Regions from separate parts of the Homo sapiens genome. Here region 2 is linked to region 1. The links come from fine-mapping of genetic effects on gene expression. A gene starts in region 1. The other region holds a variant in brackets. All regions are shown on one strand. Distances are from middle to middle. Region 1 holds the start of ZNF180 (zinc finger protein 180). Region 2 overlaps ZNF180 (zinc finger protein 180).

Region 1 (5,376 bases):
TGCAGCTCCAACCTGGTTCCTCCACCATCTTGGGCCCCTGGACCATCTACCTGTAAGCCCAGCTTGTGCCCAACATGGCCTTCTGCCCACCACCAAAGTCTGCAGCACCAGTCCATCCCTCTCCTATTCACTGGGCCCTGGGATCCCCACAAATATCAGGCATATTGAGGACCCCCTGGTGTTCACCCCATCCTACCCCTACCAACCTCAATCTACAGCCCCAAACCAGCACTTCTTCCTAGGGCCAGAATCACACTCACTGCCTAACTGCATGAAGCTGGTGACACAGCTCCACTGCTCCCAGGAACTGATTCAACAACTAAGACTGATCCTACCGTTCCATCAGCCAGACCTGTCCCTCCAGCAACTCAGCACAGAGGGCCACCCACATCCTGCTCAAATAGCCAAGCATTTATGCACAGAGCTCAGCTATACCCACATCCTGTTCCCTCCACACTTCTGGGGTCCACTGGCTCCTACTCGAACAGCACCAGCCAGATTCCCACCCTAACACCCTCCCAGGCCCTGAATTTGTAGCTCTAAACCAGTCCCTCCACCAACTTGGGTATACTCAGGCCTGAAACTACAACAAGGCCTGCATAGGGCTGGGGGCCTCCAACAGACACCAGCACAAGCCAGACAAAAGCAGCCCTACCCAGGCTCTAAATACATGTCTCAGAAGCTCAGGTGCCTCTGTACCAACTAGGTGTTTTGGGATCCAAGACTAGAGGGCAAATCCTACCCTAGGCACCCCACCCTCTGCACTCCATCTCTCCCACTTACTCTCTCCCCTGCTCCCACCATATTCTCACGCAGCATAGCGTAGGTTCACAATGCAGCTGTTTCCTGAAATTGCACCCAAACTGTTTCCTCCACCTTACTCCACAGCCCCCTGCTTGAGCCACACCTGCCCAGATTCTGACCAAACATCTTTCGGGGGCACCTGTGGCTCAGGAAGATCCTGTCTTTCCACCAAACTGGGCACCATCAGGCTGTGATCAGGGTTCCAATCACACAAAGACCCCAGCACCCTCTGTCTAAAACTCATCTCCGGCCTCCTGTTTCCCAACCAAACACCGGTGTGTGTGCACAAGGGGTGCCTGACACAGTCCCGCCCCTCTGCAGCTGCTCCCCCCCACACACCTGGGCATCCTCAGGCAGAATCAGGGTCCTAGGACTGCCCATGCCTCCCCAATCTGCCCAAATGCCAGCACACGTGCAGAGTGTTGCTGGAGCAGCCCCGTGCCTCCTAAGACCAGATCCAAACTGGAGCCCCCAGGCCTCTATTCCACAGCCACTGCACACGGGCCACCCACCTAGACTCCCTCCTACTGATACAGCCACAGAGCAGGTTCGTGCTCACAATCTGCATCCAGGACCTGGCTCCTCTGCCCGTCTGGGGGCACACCATGCTCCTGAGTCAACAATCTACATCCCTCACCCTGTGTCTCAACCTGCCTGGGACATCTCAGGTACCCACAGCCTCTGTGTAGGTTCTGGGGTCAACTGCCCCACTATTTGCCCGCAGCCAGGACACTACAACAACTAAACAGTAGCTTGAGCATACAGCTCCATAATCAGCCCCAGGACTTGGGCACTCGCCAGCGTGGGGGTTCTCGAGCCTACGATACAGCAGCTCAATGGGAACTGGGCCCTTTGTCCTTCTCTTGCCCAATCATGACGGCCTGGGTGTTGTGCAGTCAGCTCTTCCCGGGACCAAATCTGCAGCACAGGCTCTGTCCCTCTACTAACCTGCACATTCTCACGCCTGCAAATAGCGTACCCAAGTAAAGGTCTCAGCAACACCTGCTTCATAACGATGCTGGCAACATACTGCTTCCTCCCCAGCTACCAATTTGATGGCAGCTGTTGCAGCTCTGTCCTTCCTGGACTTAAATTCTGTATCTCCAACCCGGAGTCTCTGCCCATCTTGAATGCTCTAGAGCTCTGCACTATCCTACATAGGTCCCTACTATCAGTTCAAGTTTCTGTTTTCCATTCAGACACCCCCAGGACGTGCAGGGGGCCCTCTGCCCAGAACCTGTTTCTAGGCCCTGATACCCTCCTTCAGCCTGGGAGTTTGCTGCCCATGGGTAATTCCCACCAAGGGTTCACTAGCAACACTGCCTCTTCTGGCACAAGAATCTGCAACTCCAATCTGGTCTCTCCACCAACCACAGCGCCCCCAGACCTTGGAGAAGCGCGTTGTCTGCTCTAGGGGCCCAGAGCCACCTGCTCGGAATCTTACCTACAACCTTTTGCTTCCTACCCAAATACCTGATCAAGAGTAAAGGGACAGTGGCACAGCCCCTCCTCTCCAGAAACCACAATCTGCAATGGAGCACTCCATCAACCCGGACATCCTCAGGCCTCCACTAAATAAGCCCGGCATTGGAGGAGGGGAGTTCTCAAGATGTCCCCTTACATCAATGCATGTGCCCTGTGTTCCAGCAACCTGGGCATCCTCAGGCCCCAGACAAGAGCACCACCTGACCAAGCACCCGCGCATGCACGCAGAGGACAGTCGCGGAATATACAGCTGTATCAGTAACTCCATCAACCCCGGTGACCCGAGGCTAAAGCGCCACCCGCACAGATACCAGGTCTCCCCGCTACACTCACCACCGCTTCCAGCTTCCCGCGTAGACCCTGCGCATGCGCGCATCGGACACCAAGCGCTGCCCCACGCCCCTACCAACCTGGGCGTCCGCTGGCCCGCAGCCCAGGCTGGGCCTGTCACCGCCTCAGTGCCTAGCACGGCTCTGCGGCAGGACGAACTCGGGTTAGGCAACCCCCTGCCCCGATTCTGCAACACGGCCGACTCGGGTTAAGCTAGTTCGGTCCCCTCTCCTAGTCAGCATCCGCAAGGCCGCTGGGGGTTAAGTCTGAAGGGCCGAGCTGCTCGGCGACAGCAAGCGTCCGCGCGCGGGACAATGGCTGCTCTTGTGGCCGAACCCGGAAGTGCACTTGGGCTCGGAGAGCCAGAACTACAATTCCCAGAAGCCTCCGCGGCGCGGACGGTCAGTAGGCGGGGTTCCGGCTTCTCCAAGGAAGTGGGGCGGGGGACCGGGCCAGAAGCTAAGAGGGCGTCCTCGTCCGGGGCCCGGGGGGGCGCCACACCTGTGCATGTGCAGGTCTAGGGGGAGCACTAAGACCAGCCGCGGCGCCGGGAGGCCGAGGCCAGTGCAGCGACGCATGGGGAGTCGCTCTGGCGTGACGTCAGAATCCAATAGAAATGGCGGGGACCCTTTCTGGGTGCCCCCTGCCTGTCAGACGCTGCGCGCGACCCCTTGTCTCCTCTAGTCCTAGGGGAAACCTGTGAGACAGTTGCGACATCCCCATTTTACAGTGGAGGGAGCGTCTACCGAACCCTTCAGGAATCTATGTTTTTACATTTAATAATACTAAAATATAATCATTTTATTTTTAAATTTTGAGTTCTTTCTCTGCCTATAAGGCCTGAAGGATCTGTTCCCCCCACCTCTCCCCTTTTCTCTGTTTTTGTTTTGTTTTGTTTTGTTGTTTTGAGACGGAATTTCGCTCTTGTCGCCCAGGCTGGAGGGCAATAGCGCGATCTCGGCTCACTGCAACCTCCACCTCCCGGATTCAAGCGATTCTCCTGCCTCAGCCTCCTGAATAGCTGGGATTACAGGCGCCAGCCACCACGCCCGGCTAATTTTTGTATTTTTAGTAGAGACGGGGTTTCACCACGTTGGCCAGGTTAGTCTCCAACTCCTGACCTCAGGTGATCCGCCCTCGGCCTCCCAAAGTGCTGGGATTACAGGCGTAGTCCCCTTTTCTCTTTGCCCTCATTTCTTGCCCATTTGCTTGGCACATTTTCCCCATTCTCCAACAGATCCAGCAGACTCCAGCCCCTGGTCGTTTGCAGGTGCTCTTTGCACTCCCTAGCAGCCTCTCCTGAGGGATTCATTTGGCTCTCACCGTCTGGTAATTAGGGGAATATCATCTTCTCATGAGGCATTGCCCCACCACCCGTTGTGAACTTGCAAGCAAACGCTTCCCTCCCCACATGCTCTGTGCCTCCCCCTTCATCTTTTATTTTTTTCTCTAAAGAACTTTTCACTATCTAGCACACTATATATTTTAATTATTTATTTGGTCTACTGTCCGACCTACCACTACGATGTCAATTCCATAAGGAAAAGCATTTTATCGATGTTGATCACTGCTGCATCCCCAACACCTAAAAAAAAAAAAAAGAGAGAGACCTGGCACATAATAGATGCTCAATAAATATTCGTTGGCTAAATAAAGGTTCCTGTCTCTGTATTAAACACTTTAATATTTCATTACCAAGCCCAATCAGCCTATGAGGTAGTTGTGTTAATTTTCATCCTACCAGGGAGGTAGCTGAAAATTGGAGCCCTGCTGTATGAAAATACATAATTTTTTAGTTTTTAAAATGCTTGTCAAAGCACTCCTGTAGTTTTCTTCACGTAAATTCTGACCTTTAAAAACAATGAATTATTACTATTTGAAATGTAATCTCTATCCCCAAAGCTTCTTATTATTGGTTATTGTGGTTGATCTTTTAAAAAATACTTATTTTGTATCTGGTTAACCTACTGCAATGTTATTAATTCTTACAATACTCCAGTTGACTCTCTTGGCTTTTCTATTGAGACAGTTATCTACAATTTCATCTTTTCCTTACCAGTATTTTAAATTAGACATTCTCTTTCATGTTGGATTATATTGGCTACCATTTCCAAAAAAGTATTACTAAAAGAGGCATTCTTGTTTGTGTTCTTTTAATGGACATATCTCTGAAGTTTGAGGGTTAAATGTGACATCGGTTTCTACATTGAAGTAAGTAGCTTATTTTTTTAACCTTTTATTTTGTAAATTTCAAAACAAAAGTAGGGACTCAATTAATGACTCCCCAAGACCTATGTCATCCAACTTAAATATTTTCACTCAGTCTTGTTTCATCTGTATTTCCACCTATGTTGTGCATTTGAGACCAAGATGTTGAACTCTAGAGTCCATGCTCTTAACTTTTACATTATGTTGCCGCTTGTCTACACATCAGTATCTTTCCTCTACGTGCAAGCAATACTAAGTTTGCAAACAAAACAGAAAAAGTTCGTATGTATTCACAAAAAAGCAAAAAAAAAAAGCCTTATAAGTAAATTTAGTAAGATAAATATGTCATCTGAAGAAACCCTCAAAACCTTACTGAGAGAGAAAAATGGACAAATAGAAATGCTGTGTTGCTAGCTGTGTGTTGTAAAGATGTAAAATCTTGCAGATTGATCTGCAAATACAAATATGACAAAATCAGAATGGGATGCTTTGAGTGTTAGGTCGTCTTCCTTTTTTCACTTCATTTATTTTTCTGCTAATTGTTTAAGA
Region 2 (5,376 bases), 28 kb before region 1:
GCATATCTCTGCAGTTGTTTCTCAAACTGCAGGATAAAACCCTCTTGGTGAGTCCTGAAATCAAATTACTGTGTCATAACTAGCAATTTTTAAAAAGCAAAATAGATTAATAGAACAGAAAACAAAAGAATTTATCAAAGTACATTGCACACAGTATGTAACTATCAGCTGAGCAAGTTTTAGTGAGCAGTCTGTGTTGATGTTTGTGCCTATTCCTACTGAGTCACAATGCTGATTTTACTGTGGGTTACAATCAAAACAATTGGGAAACCACTGCTTAAACCCTATTCAGGGCAGCTCGTGGTCTCCCTTTCCCTGATACTATCTTATAAACTAAAGTCACTTTCAATAAAACAACCCAGAAAGGACCTTGAACCAGAAGCAGTATCCAGTGGGACTTGACCATGATATTCATGCCATTTTGAAACCCATCTTAGGATCCCAAGAATATGATCGTCCTCTTCTGCCTCAGCCCCCTGTTTGTTATATACCACAGTCTTGCTTCCCTGGGTGCCAGGCCATTGACAGTGCCACAGTATCTGTTCCCCATTTTCATAGTCATGGCTGTTTGAGATTCTGCAACAACTTAAAAGGGCAGAACTTAAGGAAATGGATTGTAGGATCTGAGTGGTCTCTATCTTTTCATGAAGACAAAGAACCTTGGGGAAAATAAAAAGGATGTCTCTTAAAGCTTGTCTCAGAGGTTTACATACGCATCCCCGCACAACGCCAGGACCATATTTCACAATGTTTACCCCATTTCAATCCCCATTGCCTTTTTATCCCCATCCCCTTTAGGCTCACCATGTACAGTTGTGCAGGTTGTACACAAACATACATGATAGTCCTCCATATGACAGTGATGTGAAGGAAGGGAAGCCATCAGGAGATAGGACTTGTTGCTTGTTTCTGAAACCTCTTGTGACCCTTTGTGTCCCTTACTCTGCCCAACATATAAAAAACACTCCATCAATATGTATTATTTATATACACACACACACTACATAAAATGGGAGCCTTTCCCATACCTTTTGTAGCAAGATTATTAAAGGCTTTTTATCGACTACTCTTATAGCAGGGAGGTGAATTTCTTCCTTCATAAATTTTTCCTAAGATTTCCTTTTTTTTCTTTTTTGCAGAGTAGGGGTGGAAAGGTCTTGCTCTGTCACCCAGGCTGGAATGCAGTGGCACAATCTTGGCTCACTGCAACCTCTGCCTCCCAGGATTAAGCAATCCTCCAACCTCAGATTTCCAAGTGGCTGGGATCATAGGCAAAACTGAGCCAATTTTTAATTTTTTTGTAGAGATGGGATCTCATCATATTGCCCAGCCTGGTCTTGATCTCCTGGGCTTGAGTGATCCTCCCACCTCAGCCTCTCAAAGTGTTGCTATTACAGGCATGAGCCACTGCACCTGGCCAAGATTTCTTTTAATTTCCCTACAACACTTGATTTCCAATTGGCAGCTCACAGGTTAGAATTACCGTGGCTCTAATTGTTTCATATGTCAATAGAAGCCAGGGACAACTTCCCACCCCATCATATTTCGTTTTCTCAAAACCTCTGGACAGATGATTGACTTGGTCTCTTAGCCACATTCTCTTTCTTCTCATAAGAGATGGGATTAAAAACAACATTTTGAATCTTCAGGAAAAGGGGTTGAATTACCTTTTACAAGAAGTGCTTCATTGCTGGCAGATTTCGAAACAAAGGATCCAGGATTTAACTGGGAGTCAGGATTATATCATGAACCTTCAAGAAGAGTGTTCCCCACATTTAAAAATGTTTCCCTCTGTGAAGAGTGAGCAGGCAAGTCTCTTCAGATTTCTGAAAATGAAAACTATGTAGCAAATGTCATTATCAAAAATCAGGATATCACAGCATGGCAAAGCCTGACACAGGTTCTTACCCCAGAATCGTGGAGGAAAGCCAACATAATGACCGAGCCCCAGAACTCTCAGGGAAGATATAAGGGAATTTACATGGAAGAGAAATTGTACAGACGTGCTCAGCATGATGACAGCCTCAACTGGACCTCACATGATCATCATGAGTCCCAAGAATGTAAAGGAGAGGACCCTGGTAGACATCCCAACTGCAGGAAAAACTTTGGTATGAAATCAACAGTTGAACAACATAATGCAGTCCATGTATTACCACAGCCTTTCACATGTAATAACTGTGGGGTGCCCTTTGCAGATGATACAGATCCTCATGTCCATCACAGCACTCACCTAGGAGAAAAATCTTATAAATGTGACCAGTATGGAAAGAACTTTAGTCAGAGCCAAGATCTTATCGTTCATTGTAAAACTCACTCTGGCGAGACTCCCTATGAATTCCACGAATGGCCTATGGGCTGCAAACAGAGCTCAGACCTTCCCAGATATCAGAAAGTCCCTTCAGGAAACAAACCCTACAAATGTAAAGAATGTGGCAAGGGCTTCAGGTGCAACTCCTTCCTTTATAACCATCATGGAGTCCACACAAGGGAGATGCCCTACAAATGTGATGCATGTGGGAAAGGGTTTGGATTTAGGTCACTTCTTTGTATTCATCAGGGAGTACACACAGGGAAAAGCCCTATAAAAGTGAAGAGTGTGGGAAGGGCTTTGATCAGAGCTCCAACCTTCTTGTCCATCAGAGAGTCCACGCTGGAGAGAAGCCCTACAAATGCAGTGAGTGTGGCAAGTGCTTTAGTTCAAGCTCCGTTCTTCAAGTCCACTGGAGGTTTCACACAGGGGAGAAACCTTATAGGTGTGATGAGTGTGGAAAGGGCTTCAGCCAAAGTACACACCTTCACATTCACCAGAGAGTCCACACAGGGGAGAAACCATACAAATGCAATGTGTGTGGAAAGGATTTTGTGTATAGCTCTGTTCTTCACACTCATCTGAGTTCACACTCGAGAAAAACCATATAAATGCAAAGTGTGTGGAAAGTGCTTTAGTTACAGTTCATATTTTCACTTACATCAAAGAGATCACACCAGAGAGAAACCATATAAATGTGATGAGTGTGGTAAAGACTTCAGTCGGAATTCAGATCTTCGTGTTCACCTCAGAGTCCACACAGGAGAGAGGCCCTATAAGTGTAAGGCATGTGGTAAGGGCTTCAGTCGTAATTCATACCTCCTTGCCCATCAGAGAGTGCATATAGATGAGACACAGTACACACATTGTGAGCGTGGCAAGGACCTTC[T/C]GACTCATCAAAGACTACATAAGCAGAGAGAAACATTATAAAGGTAGTAAGTCAGGGTTCAATTAGGAAAACAGAAGCCACACTGTATTCCAGATGATAGAGGCTAACTCAGCCTTTGGGAGGGCTGGGGGAGCAAAAGACAGGGACGCTGCCATCGATGAGGTCAGCATGACAGGCTGGGGGTTCGCGCTGGCACAGGCGCCGGCAGCCACATCGGCAGGCAGGAGGGTCCCGCTGCACAGCTGAGGGGTGATGATTGCCTGGGTGGTGATGTCGGCCATTAGACGCGCCTCTTCTGCCGGCAAGTGTGTGGCAGTATGAAGTAGAAGGACAAGCCTGTATTTGAGGCTGGAATGCGGAAGGGGCTCTTCTGCGGCTAGGTGTGGGACCCTGAGCAGGAATGTGGAGAAATGGGCAGGTAAATGCATCACGTTGGCCAGGAGATTTGCAAGGACTTACAGCTGAATGATGATAATGGGGAGTGACTGTGAGGCCCTGGGAGTCTCTGAGTGTAAAGGAAGATAGGTGTGGGGCCCCCAGGGAGTATGTGGGAGCCATTGCTGTGTAGGTGGAGGTAGTTGGGGAATAATCTGGTGAGCTCTGTGAATTTCTAGGGTTCTCCTGAATGCTGAGGGGTGACTCTTGCAGAAAACTGAGGATGCTTGGAGAATAGCTGGGAGACACAGATGAGGCCCTAAGGAATGGTGGTATAGAGGTGACAGAGATAAGGGAGGAGCACAGTGAGGTCTATGAGTTTCTGGGTGACTCCTGTGTGTTCAGGGCTGACCCAAGGAGAAATCTGGGGATGGTTGGAGAGGAGCTGGGAGACACAGGAGAGTCCCTGAGGGTTGCAGGTGAAGAGATGGGAGACGTGATAGAAGAGGGCCCTGAGATTTTTGTCTATAGGTGATACTTGGGTTTGGGAAGCTGAATGTTGCAGTAAGCTGGGGATTGAGAGAATCTGGGAGACACAGGAGAGTACCTGAGGGCCTGGAGTAAAGAGTTGGGAGACATGGGGCCAGAGCCCTGTGAGGTCCCTGAGTTTCTGCTTGTTACATGGGTGTCAGGGCCTGACTGTTACAGAAATCTAGGAATGATTGGAGAGTAATTGGGAGACATGAGACTCCCTGAGGGCTGGTGGTGAAGAGATGGGAGACATAGGGGAGGATCCCGTGAGGTCTATGAGTGTCTCTGTAATTCCTGGGTGTGGCAGGCAGACTGTCACTGAATATGAAGAATGTTCATGGCTTATATATTTTTTATTTTTACTTTATTTTCTAGGTCTCATCATAGCTCATATATAACACTCAAAACATCATTAAACCATCTAATCTAATATTCGACCATATCATTTCTTTCTTTACACGACTTGTGAGATAAGTAAGATATCAGTTAAAATTTTCATTTCAGCATCTGTTTTTCTCATATCCCCTTTGTGCTTCTTAAAGATGGTTAAAATAGGACAGACAGACTTGGAACTTTGTTCAACTGTCTTAGGAAAAGACCATTGCAGGGGCACAGTCTTTCAACCCCACTGGCCATGTAAGACTAGGCCTGGAGCCTGGAACACATCCTTCCCAAGAGATACTGAACCTCTTTCAGACTCATTGAGGGTTCTTCAAAGTGTGGGTCAGTGGTCCCCAAGGGATGCCCGCAGCTTTCAGTATTTCACACTCCATGAAAACATCAGCAACTGTTTTCCCAGACCTGACACTGCCAGGTGTGCAACAATCTCTGGATTAATCCTCATAGAGATGGCTCCACTTAGGGTCATCTCATAGGGATAGAATTTTGCTAAGGATAACCCCATCAGTTACCCTTTAAGTTTTCTTTCCTATCCCAAGGGTATTAACCTCTATTATCTGGTCTCTCAGTTCAACTTTCAGCTTATTACCTTTCTGGGATCAGAGGCTTCAATATATGGTCATCCACAGGATTCAAATTCATGATTCAAGGGAAAGGTCAGAAAGACATGTTAATCAAATCTTAAATATCAAAGAGTAACTAAAACTTTGCCTCATGAAAGCATTTTTGCAAGCATAATTTAGACGGTCAGCACTGAGCCAGGGAAGCACCCTTCTATTCAGAGGACTCTCACATCAGGGAACATATCCCAGAGGAAAGAGACAATGCTACATGAGGGGAAGAACTAAAACATGAAAATAGAGTTCCTTAA

What was found. PIP is the estimated chance that this variant, and not a neighbour inherited with it, causes the effect. A credible set is the group of variants that fine-mapping cannot tell apart.
Region 2: its variant is the best candidate, but not a certain one, in a credible set for the expression of ZNF180 in prefrontal cortex (GTEx, PIP 0.68).

Annotation. Positions count from the first base shown.
Region 1 is chr19:44,497,576-44,502,951 of GRCh38, forward strand. It overlaps ZNF180 (zinc finger protein 180), which reads right to left and starts at 2,947. Exons shown (of 5, transcript NM_001278509.3): 1 at 2,700-2,947. RefSeq lists enhancers at 2,217-2,715, 2,703-2,752, 2,716-3,216, 2,763-2,822, 2,833-3,042 and 2 more.
Region 2 is chr19:44,469,988-44,475,363 of GRCh38, forward strand. ZNF180 (zinc finger protein 180) reads right to left here. Exons shown (of 5, transcript NM_001278509.3): 5 at 4,456-5,376. It also overlaps the pseudogene ZNF285BP. Among named protein-coding and RNA genes, the nearest start is that of ZNF229, 24 kb to the left of the region's middle. The variant T/C (reference allele first, on the strand shown) is at 3,201.